Linked DNA regions of Homo sapiens. The protein of the gene in region 1 interacts with the protein of each later gene in a pairwise test. Each region holds a gene or a part of one and is shown in the gene's direction. Other genes may lie near its edges.

The links.
Region 2: the proteins of FARS2 (region 1) and FHL5 interact in binary tests that used the Homo sapiens proteins (3 or more experiments, as listed by UniProt).
Region 3: the proteins of FARS2 (region 1) and MID2 interact in binary tests that used the Homo sapiens proteins (3 or more experiments, as listed by UniProt).
Region 4: the proteins of FARS2 (region 1) and HMBOX1 interact in binary tests that used the Homo sapiens proteins (3 or more experiments, as listed by UniProt).
Region 5: the proteins of FARS2 (region 1) and ZNF438 interact in binary tests that used the Homo sapiens proteins (3 or more experiments, as listed by UniProt).
Region 6: the proteins of FARS2 (region 1) and ZNF500 interact in binary tests that used the Homo sapiens proteins (3 or more experiments, as listed by UniProt).
Region 7: the proteins of FARS2 (region 1) and RIMBP3 interact in binary tests that used the Homo sapiens proteins (3 or more experiments, as listed by UniProt).

The regions. Positions count from the first base shown.
Region 1 is NC_000006.12:5,362,141-5,366,353, forward strand, and holds part of FARS2 (phenylalanine--tRNA ligase, mitochondrial), read left to right. Parts: intron 1-4,213. UniProt on the Homo sapiens protein: Is responsible for the charging of tRNA(Phe) with phenylalanine in mitochondrial translation.
Region 2 is NC_000006.12:96,561,683-96,566,494, forward strand, and holds the start of FHL5 (four and a half LIM domains protein 5), read left to right. Parts: upstream 1-1,445; 5' UTR 1,446-1,673; intron 1,674-4,812. UniProt on the Homo sapiens protein: May be involved in the regulation of spermatogenesis. Stimulates CREM transcriptional activity in a phosphorylation-independent manner.
Region 3 is NC_000023.11:107,839,126-107,843,338, forward strand, and holds part of MID2 (probable E3 ubiquitin-protein ligase MID2), read left to right. Parts: intron 1-1,544; coding exon 1,545-2,260; intron 2,261-4,213. UniProt on the Homo sapiens protein: E3 ubiquitin ligase that plays a role in microtubule stabilization. Mediates the 'Lys-48'-linked polyubiquitination of LRRK2 to drive its localization to microtubules and its proteasomal degradation in neurons.
Region 4 is NC_000008.11:29,015,332-29,019,544, forward strand, and holds part of HMBOX1 (homeobox-containing protein 1), read left to right. Parts: intron 1-3,428; coding exon 3,429-3,582; exon of another isoform or gene 3,583-4,213. UniProt on the Homo sapiens protein: Binds directly to 5'-TTAGGG-3' repeats in telomeric DNA. Associates with the telomerase complex at sites of active telomere processing and positively regulates telomere elongation.
Region 5 is NC_000010.11:30,846,644-30,850,856, reverse strand, and holds part of ZNF438 (zinc finger protein 438), read left to right. Parts: intron 1-489; coding exon 490-2,326; intron 2,327-4,213. UniProt on the Homo sapiens protein: Isoform 1 acts as a transcriptional repressor.
Region 6 is NC_000016.10:4,764,023-4,768,897, reverse strand, and holds the start of ZNF500 (zinc finger protein 500), read left to right. Parts: upstream 1-1,735; 5' UTR 1,736-1,881; intron 1,882-2,821; 5' UTR 2,822-2,919; coding exon 2,920-3,333; intron 3,334-4,608; exon of another isoform or gene 4,609-4,875.
Region 7 is NC_000022.11:18,608,688-18,613,429, reverse strand, and holds the start of RIMBP3 (RIMS-binding protein 3A), read left to right. Parts: upstream 1-1,510; 5' UTR 1,511-1,995; coding exon 1,996-4,742. UniProt on the Homo sapiens protein: Probable component of the manchette, a microtubule-based structure which plays a key role in sperm head morphogenesis during late stages of sperm development.

The DNA.
Region 1 (4,213 bases):
CCACCATGCCCACTGTTTGGACATTCCAGGCAGCTGTATTCCAATAGTAATGATAGAAATAATAATAATAATGATAATTGCTGCCATTTATTGAGTACCTGTTATATTCCTTCAAGATACTGTGCTGTTTTTTACCTTCATTGTTGTTTAATACTCTTATTACCAATGCAAGGTATATGTTATTTTCACGTTGAGAAATATAGGGAAAGTAAGATTCAGAGAGAGAGCGAGAGTTCTCCTAGTTCATCCTTGTCACAAATCACAGGATTTACTTCTGTCTAAAGGCTGAATAATATTCTATTGTATACATACATCACATTTTCTTTATACACTCATCTGTTGATGGACATTTAGGTGGATCCCATATCTTGGCCATTGTGAATAATGCTGCAGTGAACAAGGGGGTGCAGATGTCTCTTTGACATGCTGATTTCATTTCCTGTGTTATATACACAGAAGTGGGATTGCTGGATCATATGTTAATAGTTCTATTTTTAAATTTTTTTGAACCTCCATACTATTTCCCATAATGGTTATACTCCTCTAAATTCCCACCAACAGTGTACAGTGGTTCCTTTTTCTCCACATCCTCACCAACACTTACCTTTTCTTTTTGGTAATAGCGGTTCTAACAGGTGTAAAGTGTATCTATCTCATTGTGCTTTTGATTTGCATTTCTCTGATGACTAGTGATTTTGAGGATTTTTTTTCACATACCTATTGACCATTTATATGTCTTCTTTTCAGAAATCTTTATTCAGATCCTTTGCCCATTTTTCTTTCTTTCTTTTTTTTTTTTTTTTTGACATGGAGTCTCACTCTGTCGCCCAGGCTGGAGTGCAGTGGCGCGATCTCGGCCCACTGCAAGCTCTGCCTCCTGGGTTCACACCATTCTCCTGCCTCAGCCTCCCAAGTAGCTGGGACTACAGGTGCCCGCCACCATGCTTGGCTAATTTTTTATATTTTTAGTAGAGATGGGGTTTCACCGTGTTAGCCAGGATGGTCTCGTTCTCCTGCCCTCATGCTCCACCCACCTCGGCCTCCCAAAGTGCTGGGATTACAGGCATGAGCCACCTCGCCCAGCCCCTTTGCCCATTTTTAAGTTATTTGCTTTCTTGCTGTTGAGTTGCGTGAGTTCCTTATGTATTTTGGACATTAGCTTTTTCCCAGATACATGGCTTGTAAATACTTTTTCCCATTCTGTGAGTTGTCTCTTCACTCTATTGAGTTTTTAAATAGTTCTTTACTGCCCCTTCCAAAGAGGCAGCCTTCTTTGTTTTGTTTTTGCTGACCAATTTCCTTCCATTCTTTTCTTTTTCTTCCTATTTCTCTTCTTCCCGCGTCTTCCACCCAGCATCACATGTAGTGCTAGATTATGGGCATACGATGATAAATATAAGAGAGAGAGGAGAGAAAGAGTATGTGTATATATATGTGTTTGTGTGTTCTACTCTCAAGAACCACACAGGCTAGTAGGAATACAGACAACAGCAGGTAGTAATAATACGGCATGCTAAACATTGCACATTGAGTGGTATTTGGGTCCAGGAAACAGGCCCGTTTCCTTCTAGATGTCTTTTCCCCTGACTTCTGTGCTGTGGCACCCTTTACGTCCCCTCTGTCTTACTCCTTACATCCCCTTCCCTTAAATATGATAAGTTCCAAGTATTCTTCTATCTTTTGCCCACTTATATCTTGCTCTTAGCCTCCCATGGATTCTTATATACGCTTGTGATATTAACTCTTACGTCTATGCAAATTACCTCCAAGGTCTACATTTCCAGGATTAATGTCTTACCTCATTTCCAAACTATAATATAACTCGAATTGCCTTACAGAAATTGTAATGTGGCTATCTCATTCATACTGAACTTCCATTGTCCAAATCTGTTTCCCTCTACAAAAGATGATCTGAACAAACAACAAAAATCCATTCTGAGTTCTCTGTGTCAGTGAATGACTTTATTAGTTCATCCGTTACCCGATCTCTAGAAATCTCTGGGTCACTTTTAACCCTGAATTCAGCTCATCTTACCCGTTACACACTGGGCAATGAGTTAATTAGCTGATGAACATGATCTAGTATAATCTTTTCATTATGAGATAAGTATTATATTTCTCTGTTTTACAGATGAGAACCTTGAGGCCAGAAGGGTCAAATAACGTTTCTAAGGATGATACATGGCACCTAAGAGATCAACCTAGGATCAAACCAACATTAGTATCTCTGCGAAGTCTGGCCTATTGCCCATTATATTGTATTTTCTCTTCTTATAGTTGGTCTGATTGTTTCTTTTGTACCAGTGCTAACATACTTCACGTCCACATTTGTATTCTTGCTCCTTTTTTGTGACTTTATAATCTACATATATTTGTGACTAGGAAGATTTTATTAATAGTGTAGAAAAATTTTTCAGTAGGTTAAGCTAAAACAGGGCTCAGCAAACTCTATAACAGACCAGAGAGTGAGTATTTAGGCTTTGTGAGCAACACAATCTCTATAGCAGCTATTCAATCTTACCTTGATAGCAAGAAAGCCATGGCAAATGATAAATCAAGAAATGGCTGTTGCTGTGTTCCAACAAACTTTATTTGTAAAAACAGACTATGGGCAAGGCACGATGGCTTAAGCCTGTAATCCCAGCACTTTGGGAGGCTGAGGTGGGCAGCTCACTTGAGGCAGGAGTTTGAGACCAGCCTGGGCAATGTGGCGAAACCTCATCTCTACAAAAAATACAAAAGCTAGCCGGGCATAGTGGCTTGCACCTGTAGTCCTAGCTATCTCTGGGGCAGGGAGCCACTGGAGCCTGAGACAGGAGGATCACTTGAGTCTGGGAGGTTGATGCTCCAGTAAGCCATGATCATCCCACTGCACTCCAGCCTGGGTGACAGAGTAAGACCCTGTCTCAGAAACAAAAAAAAGCCAAAGCCAAAAAAAAAAACCCCAAACAGACTACTGTGGGCAGATTTGGCCCTTGGGTCTGTAAATACTTATTTCATTTTTACTATCTAAGCTAATGTGTTTTATTGGATTTACTTATTCATGCATTTATTTATGTATTTAAAAACACATTGATGTATAATCTCAATTAGATAAAATAGAAGTTAAGGGAGGTCCTTGCAGAGATACCATTTGAACTTAACAATCTTGGACCTTTGATTGAGAAGTATACTTTCTTTTTTTTTTTTTTTTTTTTTTTTTTTTTAGTGAGGCAGAGTCTCACTCTGTCACCCAAGCTGGAGTGCAGTGGTGCAATCCTGGCTTACTGAAGCCTGAACTCCTGGGTTCATGCAGTCCTCCTGCCTTAGCTCCCCAGTAGCTGGGACTGCAGGTGTGTGCCACCATACCCGGCTAATTTATTAAATAAAATTTTTTTTTTTTTTTTTTTTTTGTAGAGATAGGGTCTTGTCATGTTGCCCAGGCTGCTCTCAAACTCCTGGGCCCAAGTGATCCTTTCGCCTTGGCCTTCCAGAGTGTTAGGATCATAGGCGTGAGCCACCACACCCTACTGAGAAATGCACTTGACCCCTGGACAACTGATTACCCTCCCTCAGTCAGTTGAAAATTCCTGTATACCTTTTGACTTCCCCTAACTTAACTATTAATTGTTAACTGGAGGCTTTACTGATAACATAAACAATTGATTAACACATATTTTGTATGTTATAGGCATTATATACTGTATTACAATAAACTAGAGAAAAGAAAATGTTATTAAGAAAATCATGAGGAAAGAAAATGTATTTACTATTTATTAAGTGGAAGTAGATCATCCTAAAGATCTTTATTCTTATCTTCATGTTGAGTAGGCTGAAGAGGAAGAGGAGGGGTTGGTCTTGCCTTCTCAGGGGTGGCAGAGGTAGAAGAGATAGGGGAGGCGGAAGGGGAGGCAGGAAGGGCAGGCACACTCAGTGTAACTGTTACTGAAAAGAATCTGCATGTAAGTGGATCTGCACAGTTCAATCCATGTTGTTTGAGGGTCAGCTATATTTGAATTGCCAAGAATTCTGAACTGTCTCATGGCTAGCTAGGCATATGAATTTATGCTAGTTACGTGATCTTTTTGAGCTTTATATTCTTTGTTGGTAAAGTGGTACGAACAATACTTACATCACAGAACTGTTGAAGGGATGAAATGGAAGAACAATGTATTAATAGAAGTATGAATGTCGTTGGTCTTATCCTCCTGGGTCTCTTATGTATTTCCAGATG
Region 2 (4,812 bases), about 91 Mb from region 1:
GAAAGAAATAGACATGGCCAGAGATGAGAATTTTTCGGTAAGACTGAAGACCATACTCTTTGGGTTGCTAATCAAGGTTGTATATGATCTTAATGAAGCTTTTTTGGAGCGGTTCAAGTGAAAGACAGATTGCAATAAGTTGGGAGGGAGAAGAAGGCTCAGAATGTAGTAGGTTTGGAATGACTTGGTGGATGTAGATTACCCTCTCAGGAAGCATGGGAGCAAATAAAGAGGGTGATGGTCCCAGGCACTTTTACATCTCAAGGACTGCTTTCCTTGCCCATAAAACAAGGAAAATACAGGCAGTACCTGTTTAGCAATGGTGTCCTAAGGATTAAAATCTATTACTAATGAAATATACTTGTGTCCTTTTGCTGAATCCAAATTTATTGTTGTTAGTCGCCATATGTTCATTTTCATAATGTCTTAATCATTAAAGTCAAGTGAATAACAAAACATACAGTTAACTGGCTCTGCATTTCTCTAGCTCAAGTTCTTTGACTGTATATACCCGAGTTTGACCTTAGAAGATATTAACATTTCATTCCTTTAGCAGTTAGAACAAGGACAGTTTAAGTTTGGTCTGGGATTAAGGCAGAATTTCTTCTCTCATCCTGCCTTCCAAACTGAAGAAATGGCCTCAAATGGAGATTCTAAGAGAAAATGTCACTTGCCTTATGAATCAGTGTGCCCCACTGAGGATACCTATTATGGATTGGTTTAATATCCAAAAATTTCTTCAGATCCAACTCTTGACATCTCTGTCCACTTTTTGTGTTTTGAAGATTTCAAAAGACTCAATGAGTTTATGCTTTATGAAGTCATAGAGCCATGGATGTGATGTCACAATTGTGGCCAGCTCACCAGGAAGCAGGCAGAGCGGGGAAGGCTGAGTCCACACTGCAAGTCCAGAGAGCAGGGAACTACCTTGAGTATTCTACTCAAACTTATGTCTCAGAGTTCCCCAATTTCCCAAGAAGGGAGAGATAGAGGCCACAATCCAGGGGGCCATCTCTTAAGGTACCAATAATTTTGCAGGTAAGAGCATGGGACCTCATCCCTTTCCAGATGGCCTCAAAAGGAGATTCTAAGAGACAATGTCCAAAAGAAAAGCTCAGCGGTTCAGACATTTCTAACCTAAAAGAAGGGTTCTGATCACCACCAGAAAACAAAGAAAACAAAGCCAAAAACAGATTGAGGAAACAGAAAATACATCATCCTTTTAGAGTATTATTTTTATAAATATGCCCTTAATTTAGCCTAGTTAGTGGAAATTTCTCAAGTGTGTATGCGTCTGTGTGAACATTGTGTATTTTAAACTTTTTGGAGCTTAGCCAGATACTTCGAATGCTAATCCTGGCAGAATTTCCCTTTAAGGATGTCCTGCAGAGAATTTGTTACTCATAGTTTTAAGTAAAAATTGACAAATAGTGCTTTTTCAGCCCAGTAGGAGTCATGTACACGGTATAAGACTTGGAGGAAATGCAGGGACCCTTCTGTTTTCTCCTGCAAAGTTGAAAAAGCTGCATGCAGTTGGAAGGGATCTTCAGATGGTGCTGGTGACTTTCTGTTCCTTTTGGAGTTGACATGCATGTGGATTGGAGGAAAAATAATCAACATATATTCTCCTTTCGTACTGTTTAAATCACAGGAAGAAGCGGCTTTAAGACAAAGTGAGTTCTTTCCCCCAAATATTTCCTTTGTTTTGTTTTGTGGTATTTTGACTTCTCTAATTTTTTTTTAAGGATGAGAAATTTTTATAAACTTTCCAGTAACTACTTAAGAGAAAACTTTTGCTTGGCAAAAGTGTATGCCTTTTGAAGTTTCTTAGCCATTTTAGCTAAAGGTTATCAAATTTTATATGCTGAGCTTTTCAGATTTCTCATTCTTATAACTTGCATGTGGAGGTAACATAGGGGCCAGATAACTCCTTGGAATTGCCTCTTGAGTTTTTCTAATGGTCTTAATGTGGGGTATAGCTTTATTGTTGTAAAAAGAGGAAGAAGAGGAGGGCTCTTGAGATTTTATTTGGCTTAATTTATTTGAATGAATAACATTATCACTGAGCATATTTTATGACTAGATTTATATTTCAAGAGCACATTTTGAAGTCACTTACAGGTTTTAAGTAAAAGGAGTTAATGAGATTCCTGCTATTTTCAAGAAAAATCTGCCTACTTTCCAGAAGTGGGCATACAAAAATTCATAATCTTTAATTTTCTAAGGTTAAATTAAAATATCTGTGTTTCCAGCCCACAGAAATATATAATAGACTATATCAATCTAAAGTGCTACTTCTTGAAACAGAGGTAGTGTTATTCAGGCAAAAAGCATACATCCCATATGTGTTAATGCTTTCTCTCTCACTATTTTAGTCATATCCTCTTTGGTACCTATCATTCATTTGAAAACCAAATGCAGCTCCTCAGCTGTCATTTCAGACTTTAGAAAATTGGAAACTAAAAAGAATTATTAACAAAATGCATAGCTCTCATACATAAAATGTAAGGAAATCCTTGAGCCATTTTAGCCCTCATTTTATATCCACAATACCATCATGTGTAAATACTAGCATTTTTATTAGCAAAGCATATGGATTAAAATTTAACATAGGTATTGCAAACATATGTATCATACAAGATATTTCTTAACATATGTGTTATGATATATGCTTTAAGCCATAATCCAAATTGCTTTAAGGGGAAGGTAAACTCTAGTGTCTGTTTTCTACACTTGTTCTATTTATTCTCACATTATTATTAGTTGCCAAATCTGGGACTGTTCTACCTAAGCAAGAGTAGTAGATTTGTGTTTTAATATAACACCACCTCACTGACAAATTTACCTCTTATTTTTATTACACTTACCAACATTTTGAGTAAAGCTGAATTAATCTGTGTTTCTTACATAAGACTGGGTACTTTTCTACTATAATATTACAAATAAGAGTTTAGAAAATTTAGAGATTTAGAGAATATTTAGAGACAGATATTTAATTTGTCTGTTTTTATTTTTTCAATCGAGGGAACATGATCTCTTTAGAAATGAAAGCTGAATACTTGGGTTCGCATGGGAAGCTCTGAATCAGATATTAGTTAAACCAGCTTGCATTTCCTTGTTCTTGTAATTATCTTTTTCCTCTCCAATTACCATAATTTTTCTTGGTTACTTTTTGGTACCCTGAAAGCTCATTGAAGGAGAGGAAGAGAAGAAAGAGGTAGAGGAAGAGGAGGAGAAGGAGGACTCCTTTTTGCCCAACATGCCTCAAATCCCTGCAAAATAATCAGCTTGAGGCCAGGCACGGTGGCTCACTTCTGTAATCCTAGCTTTGGGAGGCCAAGGTCGTGGGGATCACTTGAGCCCAGGGTTCAAGACCAGCTGGGGCAATATAGGGAGACTCTATTTAAAATAAAAATAAATAATCAGCTTATTGATGACATACCCTAGTATTTTATATGAACTAGTAAAACATTCTTATGGGTTTGGGTTTACCTTATCCTCACCATATGTCTAAACTTTCACATGGGCTAATTACCCTGATTAGAACATACTAGGATATGTCAACAGCAAGGTTTACATTCATTAAATAAATAAAGCTAGAGAGTCTCTTTGAAAACAATAGTGTGATGTGGAGAACAGAGTCAAGGTTTTGAAGTGTCATTCATACTGAGTTTTCTATGAATGAGGGCAAGTGAGTTTGCCTCCCTACCTTAAAGATATAATTAAAACAGCTGTGTTATAGAATTTTATATTAGAATAATAATAACAGTAGTCATTTTTATTTTTTGTCTTCTCAAATTCTTCGGTTATACTTCCAGCACCAATGGACCTTAAATTTATCTCACTTGATTTTTAGCAAAGCTTTGAGCGATTCCTTTGCATATTCATTTTGCCAAAGGAATACTCACCAAATGGATCCTGAGTAGATTATTTTGATATATTCAGGTTGTCTCCTCCCATTTAAAAATATACCTTTTTGTATTTTTCCAATATCATTGCAATTATAATGCTCTAAAGATGGTGGTGTGGAAGTGGAGTGGAGAAATATGCTTCTTGGGCTTGTTCTCCAGCTTGATTTTGTTTAACTATCTCTTACAATTATTCATAAAACAATTTAAGTAACATGTCATAAGTCACATGACTTCTAAGATTTTTTTCTTCTTAAATTTTTTCTTTTTTGCTTTTATTAGTATTACTATAGACATGTAACTGTACATATCCATCAGGTACAATGTGATATTTGTATACATGTATATGACAAATTATCAAATCAGGGTAAATAGCATATTTATTACCTTATTTTTCATTTCTTTGTGTTGGGAACATTTACAATCCACTCTTCTAGCTATTTGAAAATATACAATAAATTGCTAATTATAGTTACCCTATAGTGCTATAGAACACTCAAACTTATTCCTCCTATCTAGCTGTATTTTGTATTTCTTAACCTACCTTTGGCTATCTCTTTCTTCCCCCTACCCTTTTCTGCTTCCAGTAAGCACTATTCTGCTCTCTCCTTCTATGAGATTGACTTTTTTAGCTTCTTCATATTCATGAGGACATGCAGTATTTATCTTTCTGTGTCTAGCTTATTTCACTTAAAATAATGTCCTCCAAGCTCATTCATGTTGCCGTGAATGACAGAAATTTGTTCTTTTTTACAACTAAATAATACTTCATTGGGATATATAGCACTTTTTTTAATCCATTCGCCTATTGATGGAAACTTAGGTAATTTCATATCTTGGCTATGTGTTGTGAGTAGTGCTGCAATAAACATGGGAATACAGATATCTCTTTAACATACTGATT
Region 3 (4,213 bases), on another chromosome or scaffold:
CAAGAAAGATGCCCTTTTTCTTTCCTATACATAGGATTAACATTTTCAGTCAGTAAGATATGTTTTATATTTTTCCTTAGTTAAAGACAACTTAGAATATTTATGTGTGTGTATTTTAATTAATGGAAGACTCTAGGCAATTAAGAATTAGGTACCTGTGTGTTCAGCACAGAAATGCCTGTGGAAAAATAGATAGAGTTACCAAGAGGTTGGTTTCTTGTCAGTTGGGTGGCTTTTTTTGTTTGTTTTGTTTGTTTTTTTTTTTTTTGGCAGTCTCACTCTGTCACCCAGGCAAGAGTGCAGTGGCATGATCTCGGCTTACTGCAACCTCCACCTCCCAGGTTCAAGCGATACTTCTGGTTCAGCCTCCCGAGTAGCTGGGACCACAGGCAAGCGCCACCACGCCCAGCTAATTTTTGCATTTTTAGTAGAGACAGGGTTTCACCATATTGGCCAGGAAGGTCTGGACCTCCTAACCTCGTGATCCACCCACCTTGGCCTCCCAAAGTGCTGGGATTACAGGCGTGAGCCACTGTGCCCGGCCGGGTGACCTCTTTTACTCACTGATGCTCACTAAATTGAAGGTTACCAGATCTTAAAATTTCTGGAACTTTGCTAATTTCTATCTAGATATTGATTTGCATCCTGTTATGTTTTAGAAAGTATGAAAAGACACATGGGAGGTGAGCTTCATAGCTGGCTTGTGCTAGTTCAGCAGGTGTTTAGTAATGAAACCAAACTGAAGCCACAAGGCAATATGACTTTATTATTGATCAGCAACTATTGCTGAGTAGGTTGAAAAGTTTGAAATCATTCCCCATTCAGCTTGATGAACTGAAGGGGTTTCTGAAGGTGAGGGAAGAAGATGAAAGTGAAAACTATCATCTTTTATCTCAAGTAACTCAGTTTACTAGGAATAGAATGGAACGGAAATTTCCATGTGTGATAATAAGAAGTAATTCAAGTTCACACTCTGAGGAAAAACTTATTATCCTGCACCAAGGGCTACATTTTTCTAAAGCTCTCTCTTTTTTATGCAGGCTTTCAGAATGGAATCATTTCAGGAAGTAGAGAGTTACTTTAAAATATGGCATTGTTTTCCTTACACTGGATGTCACATAGAAGCAGCCCTACAGTTTACCTTGAAGTGAAATAGAGAACAATATTGGAGAATAGAGATTGGGAATTTTGCAGGGTCTCAGCCTTATCTTAGTCTAGGAAAAGAGATGTCAGTGGAGAATATGTGAGAGAATGATCCATGCAAATATTGTGAGCTGGAATGGTAATGTTAATCAGTCTATCAGGATTCAGAGGTGGCCATTTGGTTTTATCTATTTGTGCATGAAAATAAACATAGGCATTTGTCTAAAACAAGGTTTGAAGGGGAAGAAAGTCTTCCTGATTAGTTCCCAAATTGCTTTTCTATTGCTTAAGCATCTCTGGGGAATCCAGCACGTAAACGCGCCCATTGGTTAGTGTATAATTGTGTTATATCCATTTTCCTTTGGAAATGCCTAATGACTCTTGCTTTGTATTCCTTGCAGGTGAAAGCCCAGCCTCCGTGGTTCTTAATGCCTCAGGAGGACTATTTTCACTAAAGATGGAAACACTGGAGTCTGAATTGACCTGTCCAATCTGCCTAGAGTTGTTTGAAGACCCCCTTCTGCTCCCTTGTGCTCACAGCCTCTGCTTCAGCTGTGCCCATCGCATTTTGGTATCAAGCTGCAGCTCTGGTGAATCCATTGAACCCATTACTGCTTTCCAGTGTCCTACCTGCAGGTATGTTATCTCGCTGAACCACCGGGGCCTGGATGGCCTCAAGAGGAATGTGACTCTGCAGAACATTATTGATCGCTTCCAGAAGGCTTCAGTCAGTGGGCCCAATTCCCCTAGTGAGAGCCGCCGGGAAAGGACTTACAGGCCCACCACTGCCATGTCTAGCGAGCGAATTGCTTGCCAATTCTGTGAGCAGGACCCGCCAAGGGATGCAGTAAAAACATGCATCACCTGTGAGGTCTCCTACTGTGACCGTTGCCTGCGGGCCACGCACCCCAACAAGAAACCTTTCACCAGCCACCGCCTGGTGGAACCAGTGCCAGACACACATCTTCGAGGGATCACCTGCCTGGACCATGAGAATGAGAAAGTGAACATGTACTGTGTATCTGATGACCAATTGATCTGTGCCTTATGCAAACTGGTGGGTCGTCACCGAGACCATCAGGTCGCATCCCTGAATGATCGATTTGAGAAACTCAAGGTAAGGGATCTGGGGAGCATCCCCTATACAACTTTGTCGCATAAATGCAGTTAGCAAGTTCTCTAATAAAATAGGTGACTTTTCCTATATGACAAGTGAGTTAACTTTAAGTTGTTCTCATGAGGAATAACCTGCTCTCCTGCAAGCTCTTCCTGGAGCCTATCTCATCTGTTGCATAAACATTCTTGCAGTCACACACTTCTGGCTAACTTTTGGGGAGTCAGCTCATGGCCTGCAACACCAGTAGTTCATCCAGGGAAACACACCCTCTATCTTCTGTCAGTGACATATTGCTTATTATATATCTTTGCTATGATCTTTCCACCTCTTCTTTTAAGTATGTGAGTACTTGTGTACGTGTACTACAATTAGCATATGTGTCGATTTGCATATGTAGGTATATGGCAATGGGAAGGCAGGGTGTGTCTCTGTGTAGGTGTGGGTGGAGGTGGCTGAGTGTATCTAGGTAGGTGAGAGATTTTTGTGGAGGACATTATTGTATGTTTGTGTTTGTGTACTCAATACACTAAAGAAACAAAAGTTTGGCATTGGCCATTACAAATTGCCATTAAGCCTTTAACATAGGGCTAATTCTAAGCCTGCCTTTAAAAACAAAACAAAACAAAACAAAACAAAGAACTGAAGAAACTTCAGTATACCACGAAATTGGGAGGGATAATTAAATATCTGAATGAACAATTTAAACTGAAGGCAATAAATATTTTATCCAGTATCAAATTTTGTGACAGTGCTCACTATTATGGGCTACAAACTGAAGCATTTGTTTATAGTTCCTGCCTTACAAGTTCCTAGTCATTTATGTGTATTCAATGGACAGAGTTTTCTAAAGTTGTTGTGTCATATAATATGTATGTACAAGTCTAAGTGCCCATAAAAAGTCCTCCTACCTTACACTGATGATCCAGCGAATTGTTTTATTCCCATTGCTTGTCTGCTATGTTGTATAATTTCTCTTAAGAAGGGAGCTACTTAGCAGATATTCTAGAAAAATAAAATGTTTAAACGGATAGTAAAATTACCACTCCAAATAGAACCTGAGTACATAAGCCAAGCTAGAAGAAAGACCCAGATAGGATAAAAGGAGGGCAAGAAGGGAATGGAGATTTTCCTCCTGCCATGCAGTGGATGATTCATTGTAACTTCTGTAAAAAGTATAATGTTGGTGAGAGTAGCAGTACTCAGAATAGGATATATTTGTCCTGTAATTTGTTGCAAATAATATTGAGAGTAGTCACAATGACTATGGTTTGTGCCTCTTTTGGTTATTATTTATACCTGATATGTATAAATGTGTAGCAAATTCAATTTTTTTATTTCACTCAAGTTGATACTCTCATTCATATCAAGGCTGCAGAGGGAAATAATCTTGTTAACTTCAGTTCTTAGACTCATAAGATATTAGGCCTTTGACTTGGTCTAGTCGAAGCGCTCTACTTTAAAGTTGTATAAACAGACCTTGATAGATGAAGTGACTTGGTCAAAATCAAAGAAATGATTAGTAATGGGAAAGCTAGAACTGGGACTTAGCCTCTAGATTGAGTAACTATCCTTTGTACTGTAGCCGGCTGCCACTTTGTTTTGGATCTAAGTTTTCCCCATGAAATGTGATTTGAAACTTAACTTTATGCTCCCACAACTGTACATTTCGTGGTCATAGATAAATGATTAATGACATCAAGGAAGGGACAGATTGTATAAACTTACAGCTGTATAATGGCAAAAGATAGGAGCGGGGTTATAGGAAGAGTGGGGGATGTGAAGAGGACAGAACAATCTCTGCCAAATATTTGCAGGTGTTGGGACTATAATAAGTCATTGGCCTTGAGAAATATTCCAAACAGAAAAATCTGTGTCCATATGCACTGTTGAGATAACAAAAAGACTGGCTAGTGTAAGCTTGTATTACAGAAAACTAGCTATTTGAAAACATCC
Region 4 (4,213 bases), on another chromosome or scaffold:
ACCCTCCATCCTGAAGCTCTTTCTTTCTTTACAAGGGTCAGCCCCTGGACAAGAGGTTGTATTCCCTTACTGAGTCTTATTTCTACCTTTATCTTGATCAGCCATGATAACCGGTTGGCTCTGTTTTAGTCCTTTTCACCCTTGCTATAGAATAACATTTATATAATTTTAATTAGGTAGATTCCAGAGCTCTTGCTGTGCTGTAATCCCTACTTGTTTTCAGAAAAGCACTATAAGACTGTGAAACCCTCCAGCCCCCAAATTCCTGCTTATGTCTAAACTTAGTTAACTTTCAATTAGGCCCAGACTGAATTCTCAGTTTATTTTGGCAGAATGAAACCCTTTTAAATTGTTTAAAGAAGGGTTTCAGTTTAGAATTTCATGTTGGGTAGAGCAGAAATGTTTTTAAACCAGGGGTTGGCAAACTTCATATAAAGGGCCAGACAGTAAATATTTTAGGTTTTGCAGGTTATATGATCTCTATCATAGCTACTCAGCTCTTCTGCTCCAGTGCATTCATAGCCATAGACAATCTGTAAATGAATGAGCATGAGCATGTTTCAATAAAACTTTATTTACAAAAATAGGCAGTGGGTATAATTTGCCAACTCTGTTTTAGGGTGGGCTGTAAATCTCTAAAGCATTATATGATGACAAACTTACTTGTTTAAGCAGAAATGTTAAGTAGTTAAATATTTACTTTCCATCACATGCTATAAGAAATCACATACATATTAAAGGCTGAAACACAAAATGAAAGATATAAAGATACTCAGTGATATTCAAGCCCATTGGCCATAATACAAAAGACTGACAAATTTGACTGTATTAAAATTAAGATCACAAAGCACACTATAAAAAACAAATGACAGACCAGAAAAAAATTGCATTCTGTATGACTAGCAATTGCTATGATTTCTCTGCACCCATAAGAAGAATAACCCCCTAAAAAAGGAACAACAGATAGAAATTCACAAGAAAAGATATAAATGGTCAATAAACAGGAAAAGATGCTCATTCTTATTAGTAGTGAAGTCTCTATATTAAAGGGAAATTTTTTGCTGCCAAATTTATACATTTGAATAATTAATAATAGTGTATTGGGGGATAAAGGGAAATAAACAACTGAGGATGATTGTGATAATTTTTATTAGTTATCTATTCTTATACAATAAATTATCCACAATTTAGCAGCTTAACACAACCAGCATTTATTATCTCATAGTTTTCATAGATCAGGAATCCAGGAATGGCTTAGCTGGTTGTTTCTGGCTCAGAGTTCTGTAGAGGTTGCTGTCCAGCTGTCAGCCTGGGCTGCAGTCATTGGGACTGGATGGTCCACTTGGAAACTCACTCATGTGGATGTGGACAGGTCCCAGGTCCTCACTGCCTGTTGGTCAGAGACATCAGTTCCTCACAACATGGGCCTCACCATCCACTGCCTGAGTGTCCTCACACGGCAGCTAGTTTTCCCTTGAGTGAATAAGAGAGAAAGCATCCAAGACAGATGTCATAGTGTCTTCTGTATTCTGATCCTTGAAGTGACATACCATCACTGCCACATGCTGTTGGTCGCACAGCCTAATCATGGTGCAGTGTGGGAAGGGACTATACGGAGGTGTGCAGACCAGGAGGCAGGGATCCTTAGGGACCTTGGAGGTTGATGTCCACATTCCTGTGCTGGGACTGAATGTCTGAGGCCTTGTTTCTGTCTATCACCTGGTTTCTGCACTTCTCCATGTGGCATTTGCTGTGGCTACAGTGTCCAAGATGGCATTTTCTCTCAAATGCTGGCACCTGGGTGGAGTTGGCAGAAGACCCTGGGGACTGTCAGAGCATCTTTCACTCCATGTAGCCTCTCCACATGGCTATCCTGGGCTTCCTTACAACATCATAGTCTCAGGTTAGTCAGACTTCTTATATGGCCTCTGGTTTCCCCCAGAGCCAGCATTTTAGGAGACCTAGGCAGAAATTTCAAAGCATCTTATAACCTAGCCTTGAATTGTTTAGATTTTCTTGCTCAACAACCTGTCACAGGACTGGCCCAGATTCAAGGGCATGATTAGCCAGAGGTATGACTTACTGTGAGGAGCCGTCTTTGAAACTTGTCCCAGGAAACCATGATTGTGAAAGATGATGCTGACGTGTTCTAAAAGTAGTAGCAGTGCAAGGAATAAAAATTGATCTGATACTGGAAATATTTTGAAGATAAAATGAACTTGCCTATGAATTAGTTATGTATAGGTGGGATAATTAGAGAAGTGAAAGATTAATTTGAGAATTTTGAGCTGAGTGGTTTGAAGAGTGGGTATCTATTTACTGAGATGGGAAAGACTGCAGGACAATAGGTTTGAAAAGCAAAATCAGGATTGATTAACATTTTGGACATCTGTGTAAGAGAATACATCTAAAGATGTAGCTATTAAGAAGGGGATCTACAATAGATCTGTAAGTCTTGAAGTAGAAATGCTATCCATGGTATTATTTGCAAGGTACAATAAAGAGAGTATTAATTCTATTAGGAAGAAATAAATATTAATATCATTAACATAGAATTAACATATTTATTAATATTGCATAAACCTACATGTTCTAACATGTCTTTCTACACCTGTGTTAAGCATTTGAATTAAACTACAGGCAGAGAGAATTTTTTGAAGGTTTTTGATTAGAAGACCGATATGATCATAATTATGTTTTGGGAAGATGAATTTAACAGTGTAAGGAGTGAAAGAAGAGTGGGGTAGCCAGGGACTGAACTCTATGAAAGCATACCAAGTTACATTGAAAGTCTATGAAATAAGTTCATGGAGGTCACAGACAATGTTGCTTTCCTGGTTTTATTCTTAGCTTCTAGCCTAGAGCAAGCCACTTGAAAGGGATTTGTTAAATAGTGAATGAATGAATAAATGCATCATTGGCAGTTCAAGCTATTTGAGAAAAGAGTAATCTGAATTAGTAAAATGTCTCAATTATAGATATTTTTCATTGAAATTTTATTATGTTCAGGAGGTAACAGAATCTAGTATAGCATCAACAGGTAGACCTATGGAGACCTGATTTAGTTAGTAGACAAAAAGCATATCAAATATCATCTTATTTTCTTTCATGCTGTATTTCACTCTTTAAAAAAGAAAAGAGTTTACAAGAATTAGGGTTATTTTAAGTTTGTCTCCTACCTGCATAAATTCCTTAAGCTTATAACTTATTTGAATGGTTAGTAAAAGATTCTGAACATCTGAGGTATATTGTTCAAAAAGAGTATAACTATCAAGCAGGAATTTCAAAAGAAATTTTTCAGAGAAAGATACATTGATTAAGTTGTCACTAAGCCAAAGACCATACTTCCCTAGTCCCATAGGAAGTAGATGTTATATTGTTTTAAATAAACTGCAAGATATTTGCTAAAAGTGTCTTGTTTATTTCAGGCGCTACACTAAGTATGAGACCAGCCCCCATTCCAATAGAGGACCCTGAATGGAGACAAACGCCTCCCCCAGTCTCTGCCACATCTGGTACTTTCCGACTGCGACGAGGGAGTCGATTTACCTGGAGAAAGGAGTGCCTGGCTGTTATGGAAAGGTATGTGTCTCCTTTTTCTACGAATGATCTCCCAAACTTAGGGAAGACATCAACTCTGGATAGACTGGGACAGTTTTCATTTCAAACAAGTAACTTGGTATCTTGGTTCTATCTCTAAAAGTACTTTAGAATATCATAAATGCTGTATTATAGAAATAAGGTCATCTTAGCATTGAGAATTCATAAAGCTGGAGTTAGCATCTGTCAATTTATTTTACTTATAATAGTGTCCCCAGTAATTTAAGAAATGTTGGAATAAATATTTTTTGAATTCAGATCTTTGTATTATATTTTGGAAAAACTCTTTGAAGTCTTCTTTTCATCAAAAATAATGAATAATTGTATAGGAGACTACTGAGATTTAACTTTCCTTTAATAAGGAGTATGGTCTAAGTAAGCTTTGTCCCAAAGGTTAAAAATACTTATTTTTGACTTTGTTTTAGTAATTTATCCTCTCATTCTGTCACCAGTACCTGATCCATAGTAGGCACTCAGTGGTTTTTTTTTTAACCTGAATTTGACCGTAGCTTCAATTTTCCTATCTGAAATGGTATAAATTAATTATGATTGTGAAATGTTTGGCATACTTAGCATAGATCCTATAGTAGAATTATCTTTTTAGTCATCTACT
Region 5 (4,213 bases), on another chromosome or scaffold:
GTGGGAAATATCAAGATGAGATGAATATAGGCTGTACCCTCACAAAGCTGAAGCTTAATAGGGAAAGCAGAACATGTATATAAAATAATAAACTACATAGCAGAACATACCAGACATCATGTGAAGATGAGTGGGGATAGGTTAAATGGAGAGGATGGACTTGCAGAATACATGGATGAGAAGGACGGAATTTTCGCTGTCAAGCAGTGTTGACTAGTAGAGATACACATAAACACATAAATTATTATGGAAAATGGTAAATAACATAATAGGAGCTAAGGAACCATAGATAAGTATAGAAATCCTTGGGGAAGGTAGGCAGGAATTGATCTTCAAGCTGGTCTTGAGGGACACAAGATTTTGCCCAGAAGGCTTGGAGGTAGGTCAAGGAATCTGTTCTGGGCAGAGTAAATAAGATGCTTGTTGTTTGAAGTATCACTAACAGAACAGTTACATACAGTAACTCTTTATATTTTATTGTCATTGCAGGTGAATCAAACATCCCTTCTGGAACAATACAGAGTAGGAAAGGTTTGCAGAATAAGAGTCAGTTTAGGACCATTGCACCAAAAATTGTGCCCAAAGTCCTAACGTCCAGAATGCTGCCATGTCATTCACCATCACGCTCTGATCAGGTGAATCTGGGACCCTCCATCAACTCCAAGCTGCTGGGGATGTCCACCCAGAACTATGCCCTGATGCAGGTTGCTGGCCAGGAGGGGACATTTTCTCTTGTTGCTCTGCCACATGTTGCCTCAGCTCAGCCAATTCAGAAACCCAGAATGTCCCTACCTGAAAACCTGAAACTTCCTATTCCTAGATATCAACCCCCTAGAAATAGCAAAGCATCAAGAAAGAAACCCATCCTGATCTTTCCTAAGAGTGGCTGTAGCAAAGCTCCTGCCCAAACCCAAATGTGTCCTCAGATGTCCCCTTCCCCACCTCACCACCCTGAACTCCTGTACAAACCCAGTCCATTTGAGGAAGTACCATCACTAGAGCAAGCCCCAGCCAGCATTAGCACAGCTGCGCTGACCAATGGAAGTGACCATGGGGACTTGAGACCACCAGTGACCAACACCCATGGCAGTCTGAACCCTCCTGCTACCCCAGCATCATCCACACCAGAGGAGCCTGCCAAGCAGGACCTCACAGCTCTTTCAGGGAAAGCACACTTTGTAAGCAAGATAACATCTAGTAAACCTTCTGCTGTTGCCAGTGAAAAATTTAAAGAACAAGTTGATCTTGCAAAAACCATGACCAATTTATCACCAACCATTCTTGGCAATGCAGTTCAGTTGATCTCTTCAGTCCCCAAAGGGAAACTGCCAATCCCACCCTACTCAAGAATGAAGACAATGGAGGTTTACAAAATCAAATCAGATGCTAACATTGCAGGTTTTTCTTTACCAGGACCTAAGGCCGACTGTGATAAGATACCCTCCACCACAGAAGGCTTTAATGCAGCCACCAAGGTGGCAAGCAGGCTACCTGTTCCACAAGTGTCACAGCAGAGTGCCTGTGAAAGTGCCTTTTGTCCACCCACCAAACTTGATCTTAACCACAAAACAAAACTGAACAGTGGAGCAGCAAAGAGAAAAGGAAGAAAACGGAAGGTACCAGATGAAATTTTGGCATTTCAGGGAAAAAGGAGGAAATATATCATTAATAAGTGTAGAGATGGTAAAGAAAGAGTAAAAAATGATCCCCAAGAATTCAGAGACCAAAAGCTGGGGACCCTGAAAAAATACCGTAGCATTATGCCCAAACCTATCATGGTCATACCCACTTTGGCCTCCCTGGCTTCTCCAACTACACTACAGTCCCAGATGCTTGGGGGCCTAGGACAGGATGTTTTGTTAAATAATTCACTCACTCCTAAATATCTTGGCTGTAAGCAAGACAACAGCTCTTCCCCTAAGCCCAGCTCCGTGTTCAGAAATGGATTCTCTGGCATTAAGAAGCCTTGGCACAGATGTCACGTCTGCAACCACCACTTCCAGTTCAAACAGCACCTTCGAGACCACATGAATACACACACCAACAGACGCCCTTACAGTTGTCGGATTTGTCGCAAGTCCTATGTACGTCCTGGCAGCCTGAGCACACACATGAAACTTCATCATGGTGAGAACCGTCTGAAGAAACTCATGTGTTGTGAGTTTTGTGCAAAAGTGTTTGGCCACATCCGAGTCTATTTTGGCCATCTGAAAGAAGTGCATAGGGTTGTGATCAGCACTGAGCCTGCGCCCAGTGAACTGCAGCCAGGAGACATACCAAAGAACAGAGACATGAGTGTGCGAGGCATGGAGGGATCATTGGAGAGGTGAGTGCCAATGTAATGGAGACCTGGCAAGAGAGTCTGTTTTGATTTGGGGAAGAGGGGAAGATTTCATATTCAGAAAGGAGAGTTTATAAAACATCTCTAGGATTAAGATTTCATAAAGTAGCTATGTATACCTCCTAGATCTGTGAAGAATGATCTTGTTTCTCTCTGGTTTCTGATCATCCATACTTGGAATTACCCTAACCAATCTAGTAAAGTACTGTATATAGTTCCAGTGGTCTTTACAAGTAATTTCCCCCAAAATCACATCCACAGAATTTGCGTTATTTTAAACAGCATCATTTGCCCCAAAATGCGGCATGACCCATGGTTGGGGACTCAGAGTGGGTGGGTCTGTCATGTTGACCCTACCTTAAGGTGCCCAGACCCCACCCTCTTCATTTGCCCTGTTTTTCCCATCAGTTCGGGTTCACTCTTTCTGGTGTCATTCCTTTTTGCAAGCACTGCTTCCTGGTATTATTGCTATGGGATCCTTGGGGTGTCATTTCACCAGCCGGAAACCTCTGTGGCCAGTGGCGCCTTGGCCTGAGTTTTGCTCTGGCCCATTAGGCTCGTTCCACCCACTTGGAACCTAGCAGGCTGCACTCAGCTCATGCTACCGGCCTAGATCCCATGCCTGCCAAGGGCGAGCCAGGCACAGAGTGGTGAGGGATGTGTGAGTGAGCGTGGGGTCTGGCCACTGCGCATAGGCAGGCACGCCGGCTGCTGCTGCAGGCCAGGCAGCTCCAGGTGCCACCTCCTTGCAAGGCTGTGGCTGGACCAGGCACATCACAAGCAGCTTCCACGGTTGGCACCAGGAACATGATGTTGCCCAGAAGCTTGGAGACTAGGGAGTCACTGCCCTGGCTCAGGGGGCTCCCAGGACAGAGCTCCCCAAAGGGCCGCAGCTCTTCTCTTCACCTGCTGTGTGGCAAGCAAGAGGCGTGTTTCAGCCTGTTTGTGTTACAGCTCTCTTAGCCCCACCATTTGGCAGGTCTCAAGTTCTTGTCCTGCGTTCAGGAAGAATGAGGTACACAGAGAAGTAGAGGGTGAGCAAGATGAAGAGGAGCTTTATTGAGTGATAGAACAGCTCAGAGTTGAACTGCAGGGGGCAGTTCCTCTCTGCAGGCAGGTTTTCCCCGTCATCTCTTGTGCTCTCAGCAGAGAGGGTAGCTCCTCTCTGCCACTGGTCGTCCCATTGTCTCTTCAAGTCTGGCTAAGTCCGGGGCTTTTATGTGCCTCAGAGGAGAGGAAATGCGTGCAGTTGGTCCATGGGCAGTCATGGACAGACCCAGAAAAGCACCACAAGTTCCCACTCCAGTCCACATGACTGGCAACCTGGCCCCCAGGCTTCAGGGCTTCTCTGGCTTGAAGGTGGGGCTTCACCGGGGACCTCCCCTTTTCTGCCCAGGAGCTTCTTTGCTCCCTGCTTCTGTTTATGGCACCCAGGCTGTTCATGCTGAGGGGGCACCTGCAGGCTGGCACCGAGCTGTCCTGAGCACCCCTTCCTCAGCCTCCCTTCCATGCTTATTGGCACCCAAAGTCTGGAGCAGGCCAATGGGGTAGGAGGTGGGCATATCAGCACTGCCTCAAGCGTGTGCACACCCAACCAGGTTACAGCAGAGCCCAGGCTCAGCCCCAGCCTTGCTTTGAGATTGGAGCAGGTGCTGACAGCAGGGAGAAGCCAGGCAGCAGGAGCAGGTGCTTCTTGAGCCCGTGGGGGGAAAGGGGCCTTCCTGGACCCCTGAGAGTGCAGAGATGCCTGGATCTGCAGCCACAGCAGGGTAGCTACAGTGATGCCTGGGAGGGCAGGAGCGCTCCTGCCTGCTCCCAGCTTCCAAGAGCACAGGGGTGCCTGGGTCACAGCTGCAGCTTGGGCAGCTGCAG
Region 6 (4,875 bases), on another chromosome or scaffold:
CGCGGGGCGCTCTGGGAAATGTAGTCCTGCCAGCTTCCTGAATCCGGCGTCCCCAAATTTGTTTCCGGCGGGCTGAGTCCTAGCCGATGCTTTGGGAAAGACGCGCGAGATTCCGGGGGTAGATCCGGGATGCGAGGCGGGGCGCGCATGCGGGGCGGAGCTTGTGCGGGGCGGGGCGTACGTTGAGTGTACGCCTGCTGTGTATGCTGCGTTGCTGCTCACCCGAACTCGGTGCTGGGACTCTTTCCTGGGCACCCCAGGCAGAGGGAAACTCCGGATCATGTTCAACCAAAGAGGAAAAGCAGCGAGAATCCAGCATAGGAGACGGGCCTTAGGATGCCCAAGTTAGGATTAGGGGCAAACTACGTTAACCTGGTAGTTAGGAGCTGAAGTTCTGGAATCAAAGATTTGGGTTCCAATCCCATTTCTGTACTTCCTGTTTGACCTTCTCTGGGGGGTTCAATACTTAAAACTCTCAGAGCTTCAGGGTTTTGTTTTGTTTTGTTGAACCGGTAGGTCTAGTTATAGTACCTCTATTACTAAATGAGGAAGAAACGAAGTACAAATGTGTTTTGCTTGCTTGATGCTCAAGAATTGATGCGACCGGGAGCGGTGGCTTACTCCTGTAATCTCAGCACTTTGGGAGGCTGACGTGGGTGGATTGCTTGAGGCCGTTGGAGACCAGCCTGGGCAACATGGGGAAACCCCATCTCTACTAAAAATACAAAAATTAGCCGGACCTGGTGGTTCGTGCCTGTAATCCCAACTATTCGGGAGGTTAGGTAGGAGAATTGCTTAAAACCGGGCGGCGGAGGTTGCTGTGAGCCAAGGTCGAGCCACTGCACTCTAGCCTGGGCGACAGAGTGAGACCCTGTCTCTAAATAAATAAATACATACATACAAGAATTGATACCTGGCTGGGCACACCTGTAATCCTGACACTTTGGGAAGCTGAGGCGGGAAGATTGCTTGGGCCCAGGAGTTTGAGACCAGCCTAGGCACCATGGTGGGACTTCATCTCTAACAACAACAACAAAGATTGATGCCCATTATTATGTTGTCAGAAAGAAGCAGGCAGGACAAGGGATATTTGGGGTTGGACGTTGTTGGGGGCCCTCTTGGGGGAGGGTGGGCGCAAGCACTTGGCATCTCTTCCAGTTTTATCTTGAACAACTTCTGCCTTTATTTATTTTATTTATTTATTATTTATTTATTTATTTTTTGAGATGGAGTTTCGCTCTTGTTGCCCAGGCTGGAGGACAATGGCAGGATGTCGGCTCACTGCAACCTGCGCCTTAGCCTCCTGAGTAGCTAGGATTACAGGCATGAACCACCACGCCCAGGTTTCTCCACGTTAGTCAGGCTGGTCTCGAACTCCCGACCTCAGGTGATCCGCCCGCGTCGGCCTCCCAAAGTGCTAGGATTACAGGTGTGAGCCACCGTGCCCGGACGACTTTGCTGGCTTTAAAGATGGAGGAGGCGGCCAGAGGAGAGCGGAGCGGGTGTGGAACAGTGACTGGGAAAGTAGCCCAGAGGCTGCAGAGTCGCCGCACGCTCGCGCGGTCACCGAGGTGCTGGACTACGTTACCCACAATGCGTGCCTTTGAGGACCACATTAACCACAGTGCACGTCGCGGACCCGCCCACTCGGCCGTGTTGCCACGCCCCCAACGGCCGGCTTAGCCAATGGTGCCACGGCTACGTTACCCACAATGCCGCCTGCGGGCCCACCCGCACGGCCTGGTTTGCACCCCTGGTTTAGGGTCTTCGGCCCCGGCTCTGGCGTCCCTGGCTGCCAAGCCTGAGGCCCGCAGTCCTACTCCCGCCGAGACCCGCCGCTCCGGTCCTGCCCCGAACTGCCCACGGCCGGCAGCGCTTCCAGTGAGTGCGGGGGGCGCGGGGACGCGGGTCCCGGCCGAAGCTTCGATTTCGCGGCCCGCGCCAGCACCCGGGTCTGTGCCGCGGCCTCGGGTACCGCTCACCCTCCACCTGAGGGATGAGACGGGAAAGCAGCCCGGCCTGGGGGTCCCAGCTCTCCCAGGACCCTGGAATTGGGGGGCTGTCGTGACCACCCACGCGGGGGTGCCTGACGGGGCCGCGTAGGGGCTTCAGGGTTCGCCAGACCTGGACACCGGGGATCAAGTTGAGGCAGAGTCTGCAGAAAGGCCCTACTTTTCATCAGATTTCCAAAGGAACCCCTTCCATATAGGACCCACTCTAATCATGGAAAATAACGATTCTCGAGCTCTGACCGCAAACATCCCTTTTAGATTGTTTTTGTTTGAGTCTCTCTCTGTCGCCCAGGCTGGAGTGCAGTGGCGCTATCTCAGTTCACTGCAACCTCCATCTCCCGGGTTCAAGCGATTCTCCTGTCTCAGCCTCCCGAGTTGCTGGGATTACAGATGTGCTACCACCATGTCGGGCTAATTTTTGTATTTTTTGTAGAGACAGGGTTCCACCACGTTGACCAGGTGGTCAACTCCTGAACTCACGTGATCTGCCCTCCTCTGCCTCCCAAAGTGCGGGGATTACAGGCGTCAGCTACTGCCCCCAGCCATCCCTTTTAGTTCTGTCAGCAACCTGTGTGTGTAGGTCCTGTTATCATCTCTGTTTGCCCAGTGAGGAAGCAAAGCCCAGAGCCCTTCAGTAAATTACCCGGGAATTAACAGGGGGTTAATAACAAAGATGACATTCATCCACTTCCTTTTCCTTTTCCATGGTGGGGTGAGCTGGCCTTGGAACCAGGGCAGGGGCTTCCCAGGCCAAAGGGCTTATCCAGCCCCAGGGCTGCCCTTCAGATGGTTTTATCGTCTCTCCACAGGGCCCTGAAAAAAACTCTCTTCCTGTGTCTGGCCAGAGGTATAGAGAGAGACAGGTTCAACTCTAAGGCCTGAAAAGGAACAAGGCCCACCGGAAGCAATGGCCACTGTCCCTGGCCTCCAGCCCCTGCCAACCTTGGAGCAGGACCTGGAACAGGAAGAGATCCTGATTGTGAAGGTGGAGGAGGACTTCTGCTTGGAAGAGGAGCCCTCCGTGGAGACGGAGGACCCCAGCCCTGAGACTTTCCGCCAGCTCTTCCGGCTCTTCTGCTACCAGGAGGTGGCTGGGCCCCGGGAGGCCCTGAGCCGCCTCTGGGAGCTGTGCTGCCGCTGGCTGCGGCCGGAGCTGCGCACCAAGGAGCAGATCCTGGAGCTGCTGGTGCTGGAGCAGTTCCTGACTGTGCTGCCGGGGGAGATCCAGGCTCGGGTACGCGAGCAGCAGCCGGAGAGCGGTGAGGAGGCCGTGGTCCTTGTGGAAGGGCTGCAGCGGAAGCCCAGGAAACACAGGCAGCGGGTGAGTGGGGGCATTTTGACCCTCAGGTGAGGAAATGGGGCCCTGCTGCTGGGGTCTGCAGCTGCAGATTCCTTGGTCATTGGGTGACCAAGTGTGGCTGCCTGGCCCCTGAGCCCTTTTGAGGAAAGCAACTGCAAAAGATTTCTCAGCCTTGGCTAATGGGTGTCCACCCTTTGATTAACCTCATCCTACCCCAATAGCCCTTTATTAGCTAGTGCAGATGGTTTGTGAACACTGTCCTAGGGTAGGCCAAACATGTTTTTTTTTTTGAGACATAGTCTCGCTCTGTTGCCCAGGCTATGGTGGTGTGATCACCGCTCATTGCAGCCTCTACCTCCAGGCTTCAAGCAATCCTCCCACCTCAGCCTATTGAGTAGCTGGGACTACAGGCATGCACCACTACACCTGCTAATTTTGTGTATTTTTTGTAGAGACAGGGTTTCGTTATGTTGCCCAGACTGGTCTTGAACTCCTGGCCTCAAGTGATCCTCCCATCTTGGCCTCCCGAAGTGCTGGGATTACAGGCATGAGCCACTACGCCAGCCCCAAACATAGGTTTTGGTGGGAGAGAGGTCCGGCACCTTCCAAGGCAGGGAGTTGAAACTACCCCCAAAGTGGGAGAACACTGGGAAGAAAGACCAGGGGCATGGGGGGCACTTTGGTTAGAGCCCCCAGAGGTTCTAGAGCTGTGCCATGCAAAACAGTAGCTGCCAGCCACATGTAGCTTTTTAAATTATAGCTATGTACATTTATTTTACTTTTTTTTTTTTTTTCTTTTTTTTTGAGATGGAGTCTCGCCCTGTCGCCCAGGCTGGAGAGCAGTGGCGCAATCTCGGCTCACTGCAAGCTCCGCCTCCCGGATTCACGCCATTCTCCTGCCTCAGCCTCCTCAGCAGCTGGGACTACAGGCGCCCACCACCACGCCCGGCTAATTTTTTTGTATTTTTAGTAGAGACAGGGTTTCACCGTGTTAGCCAGGGTGGTCTGGATCTCCTGACCTCGTGATTCACCTGCCTTGGCCTCCCAAAGTGCTGGGATTACAGGCGTGAGCCACCGCACCTAGCCCATTTATTTTACTTTTATTTTTGTGAGACAGAGTCTCTCTCTGTCGCCCAGGCTGGAGTGATTCTCGTGCCTCAGCCTCCCAAGTAGCTGGCATTACAGGGATCTGCCACCACGCCAGGCTGATTTTTGTATTTTTAGTAGAGACAGGGTTTTGCAATGTTGGCTAGGCTGGTCTCAAACTCCTGGCCTCAAGTGATCTGCCTGCCTTGGCCTCCCAAAGTGCTGGGATTACAGGCATGAGCCACTGTGCCCGGCCACTGTGTAGAATGTTAAATTAGTTCCTCAGTCACACTGACCACCTCTCAAGGGCTCAGTCGTCACACATGGCCAGTGGCTACTGTACTGGATGGCACAGACAGGACCCTTCTGACACACCGAAATCTCTATAGACAGTGCCTCTCCACCTCCTTCCAGCCCCATTTGAAGGAGTAGAGGAAGCCTCTTACTCATTCCTGCTGCTTCAGTTTCAGTTGTGGA
Region 7 (4,742 bases), on another chromosome or scaffold:
CCAGCACTTTGTGAGGCTGAGGCGGGCAGATCACAAGGTCAGGAGATCGAGACCATCTCTACTGAAAATACAAAAAAAATTAGCCAGGCATGGTGGCGGGCACCTGTAGTCCCAGCTACTTGAGAGGCTGAGGCAGGAGAATGGCGTGAACTCAGGAGGCGGAGCTTGCAGTGAGCAGAGATTGCGCCACTGCATTCCAGCCTGGGCGACAGAGCGAGACTCCATCTCAAAAAAAAAAAAAAAAAAAAGAACATCTGGAGCCATAATTCCCGATGTTCTTGTTACTTGACACTGCCTAAAGGCATGTTCTGTGGGTTCCGGGGAAACTGATTTGAAAAACTTGAGTGTTGTAAAGGAGGGCCATAAGCTGAGTGAACACAGCAGTTGTGAGAGGTCCCAGGTGCTTCCTGGGGACAGGGAGACACGACAGACCAAGAAGCAAAGGGGCCTCTGATGTGACTTCAATATCAAGGTCTTGTCGGGCACAGTGGCTCATGCCTGTAATCGCAGCACTTTAAGAGGCCGAGGCGGGTGGATCACTTGAGGTCAGAAGTTCAAGACCATCCTGGCCAACATACTGAAACCCTGTCTCTACTAAAAAGTACAAAAAATTAGCTGGGCATGGTGGCTCAAGCCTGTAATCCCAGCTACTTGGGAGGCTGAGGCAGGAGAATCTCTTGAACGTGGAAGGTAGAGGTTGCAATGAGCCAAGATTGCGCCACTGCACTCCAGCCTGGCGACAGAGTGGGGCCCCATCTCAAAAAAAAAAAAATCAATGTCTCGATGCAGACTGCCAGGTATCAGGTGTCCATCCATGTCTCCCAAAAGCCACTTGGCACCAGGAGCAGACAGGAAGGGCAAAGAGGAGCCAGACTGAAGCAGGGCTTCTTAGCTCCCAAGCCACACAGGTGGCCACCAGTCAGAGAGGCAGTGTGTGTGTGTGTGTGTGTGTGTGTGTGTATTTCTTCAGTTCAGTGTGTGTATGTATGTTTCTTCTGCAGCTCAGTGTATGTGTGTATTCCTTCAGCTCAGTATGTGTGTGTGTGTATGTTTCTTCTGCAGCTGTGTGTGTGTGTGTGTGTGTGTGTGTGTGTGTGTGTGTGTTTCTTCTGCAGCTCAGGATGCCTCCAACATTTCTGCTGAAGCCTCACCCTCACTCCTGGCCCATCCTGAGGCCTCTACCTAAGATGCCAATGAGTAGCCCAGACACTGGGGCTCCAGTGTTTGTCACCAGGTGGTACCTGGATGTGGGAGGTAGACAGGCCAGATGGCCAGTTTGGGCAGTGCCCCTCATGCCTATCTGGCCCTGGGTCCCTATGCCACCTTGCTGGGGAGGGTCTTTTCGCTTACACCTCCTCTGAGCCGACTCTGCGCAGTAACACAAATGTGTATCAGGCACATCCTTTCCTCAAAAGGTGGATGACCAGTTGGGTGATCAGGGCTGTTAGGGGGCTGAAGGGTCCTGGGGAGTCCAGGTCTAGCCAAGTTGAGGCCTATCCTGCTGCATTTTCCAGCCACCTGACCCAAATACACCACCTGAACCCACGACCAGGTATGCCCACACCCCATGGGTGGCCTTAACACACACACCCTGCCCCTTTCTCCAAGTACAGGAGCAGCAGCCCAGACTTCCCTCGGGGCACCGCGGCCTGCTTGGGACTGCACAGTGCCTGGGAGGGTGCCTGGGGAGGGTCACAAGGGACTTGGTGCTAGAAGCAGGAAAAGTGTAGGGACCGGAAAAGCCCCCGTGCATCCTGGAAGGGACATGGGCCAGTTTGAGCAGGGGTGTGGGAGTCCAGCCCTGGCCTTGCCAGGTGGAGAGGCGCCTGGGCCAGACATCCGCGGCAGGAGGCGGGGGAACATGCCAAGAGGCGGAAGGGGCACGCGGAGACCCCCAGGGGGCGCCGGAAGGGGCGCGCCGGGCGGTCGGCGGCGGCCGTTGGCGAGCTGAGGCCTGCCAGGCGAAGTCTGGAGACCAGCCGGGCCGCGGCCGCAATGGCCAAGGACTCGCCCAGCCCCTTGGGCGCGTCGCCCAAGAAGCCGGGCTGCTCCAGCCCGGCGGCGGCAGTGCTGGAGAACCAGAGGCGGGAGCTGGAGAAGCTACGGGCGGAGCTGGAGGCGGAGCGGGCAGGCTGGCGGGCGGAACGGCGGCGCTTCGCTGCCCGGGAGCGCCAGCTGCGTGAGGAGGCCGAGCGGGAGCGGCGACAGCTGGCTGACCGTCTGCGCTCCAAGTGGGAGGCACAGCGCAGCCGGGAGTTGCGGCAGCTGCAAGAGGAGATGCAGCGGGAACGCGAGGCCGAGATCCGGCAGCTGCTGCGCTGGAAGGAGGCCGAGCAGCGGCAGCTGCAGCAGCTGCTGCACCGGGAGCGCGATGGCGTGGTGCGCCAAGCCCGGGAGCTGCAGCGCCAGCTGGCCGAGGAGCTGGTGAACCGCGGCCACTGTAGCCGCCCGGGGGCGTCCGAGGTTTCCGCGGCGCAGTGCCGCTGTCGCCTGCAGGAAGTGTTGGCGCAGCTTCGCTGGCAGACTGACGGCGAGCAGGCGGCGCGCATCCGCTATCTGCAGGCGGCGCTGGAGGTGGAGCGCCAGCTCTTCCTCAAGTACATCCTGGCGCACTTCCGCGGGCACCCGGCTTTGTCGGGATCACCGGACCCCCAAGCTGTGCATTCCTTGGAAGAACCGCTGCCCCAGACCTCCAGCGGCTCTTGCCACGCCCCCAAACCCGCCTGCCAACTCGGATCTCTAGACAGCCTGAGTGCTGAAGTCGGTGTGCGCTCCCGCTCGCTAGGCCTGGTGTCCTCTGCGTGCTCCAGCTCCCCAGACGGCCTGCTCTCCACGCACGCCAGCTCCCTTGATTGCTTCGCACCTGCGTGTTCCCGCTCGCTTGACAGCACCCGGAGCCTCCCCAAGGCCTCCAAATCCGAGGAGCGGCCCTCCTCACCAGACACCTCCACCCCTGGCTCCCGGAGGCTCTCGCCGCCACCATCGCCACTCCCGCCGCCACCACCACCGTCAGCCCACAGGAAACTCAGCAACCCGCGGGGAGGAGAAGGCTCTGAGAGCCAGCCCTGCGAAGTCCTGACTCCCTCACCCCCGGGCCTGGGCCACCACGAGCTGATAAAGCTGAACTGGCTGCTGGCCAAGGCGTTGTGGGTGCTGGCGCGCCGCTGTTATACCCTGCAAGCGGAGAACAAGCAGCTGCGGCGTGCAGGCTGCCCCTACCAGGCAGACGAGAAGGTGAAGCGGCTCAAGGTAAAGCGCGCGGAGCTGACCGGGCTCGCGCGGCGCCTAGCTGACCGCGCCCGCAAGCTGCAGGAGACCAACCTCCGGGCCGTGAGCGCGCCTATACCCGGCGAGAGTTGCGCCGGCCTGGAGCTGTGCCAAGTCTTTGCCCGCCAGCGCGCTCGGGACCTGTCGGAGCAGGCGAGCGCGCCGCTGGCCAAGGACAAGCAGATCGAAGAGCTGCGGCAGGAGTGCCACCTCCTGCAGGCGCGTGTCGCCTCGGGTCCCTGCAGCGACCTGCATACTGGAAGGGGCGGCCCCTGCACCCAGTGGCTCAACGTCAGAGACTTAGACCGCCTGCAGCGCGAGTCCCAGCGGGAAGTGCTGCGCCTGCAGAGGCAGTTGATGCTTCAGCAGGGCAACGGTGGCGCTTGGCCCGAGGCGGGCGGCCAGAGCGCAACCTGCGAGGAGGTGCGACGGCAGATGCTGGCGCTGGAGCGCGAGCTGGACCAGCGGCGGCGCGAGTGCCAGGAGCTGGGCGCGCAGGCGGCCCCGGCGCGGCGACGTGGCGAGGAGGCCGAGACACAGCTGCAGGCGGCGCTGCTCAAAAACGCCTGGCTGGCGGAGGAGAATGGGCGGCTGCAGGCCAAGACCGACTGGGTGCGGAAGGTGGAGGCTGAGAATAGCGAAGTGCGCGGCCACCTGGGCCGCGCGTGTCAAGAGCGCGATGCCTCCGGCTTGATCGCCGAACAGCTGCTGCAGCAGGCGGCGCGCGGGCAGGACAGGCAGCAGCAGCTGCAACGCGACCCGCAGAAGGCCCTGTGTGACCTCCATCCTTCCTGGAAGGAGATACAGGCGCTCCAGTGTCGGCCTGGTCACCCTCCTGAACAGCCCTGGGAGACCAGTCAAATGCCGGAGTCCCAAGTTAAAGGTAGCAGAAGGCCCAAGTTCCACGCACGGCCTGAAGACTACGCAGTGTCACAGCCCAACAGAGACATACAGGAGAAAAGGGAAGCCTCCCTCGAGGAGAGCCCAGTTGCCCTTGGGGAGTCAGCCAGTGTCCCCCAAGTTTCAGAGACAGTCCCTGCCAGCCAACCTCTGTCCAAGAAAACCAGCTCCCAGTCAAACTCCTCCTCTGAGGGGTCGATGTGGGCCACCGTGCCGTCCTCCCCTACTCTGGACAGGGACACAGCCAGTGAGGTGGATGACCTGGAGCCTGACAGCGTGTCCCTGGCCCTGGAAATGGGGGGCTCGGCGGCTCCTGCTGCCCCCAAGCTCAAGATCTTCATGGCTCAGTATAACTACAACCCATTTGAGGGGCCCAATGATCACCCTGAGGGTGAGCTGCCCCTCACAGCTGGGGACTACATATATATCTTCGGGGACATGGATGAGGATGGCTTCTATGAGGGGGAGCTTGAGGATGGCCGGCGGGGGCTGGTGCCCTCCAACTTCGTGGAGCAGATTCCGGACAGCTACATCCCAGGCTGCCTGCCTGCCAAATCCCCTGATCTTGGCCCCAG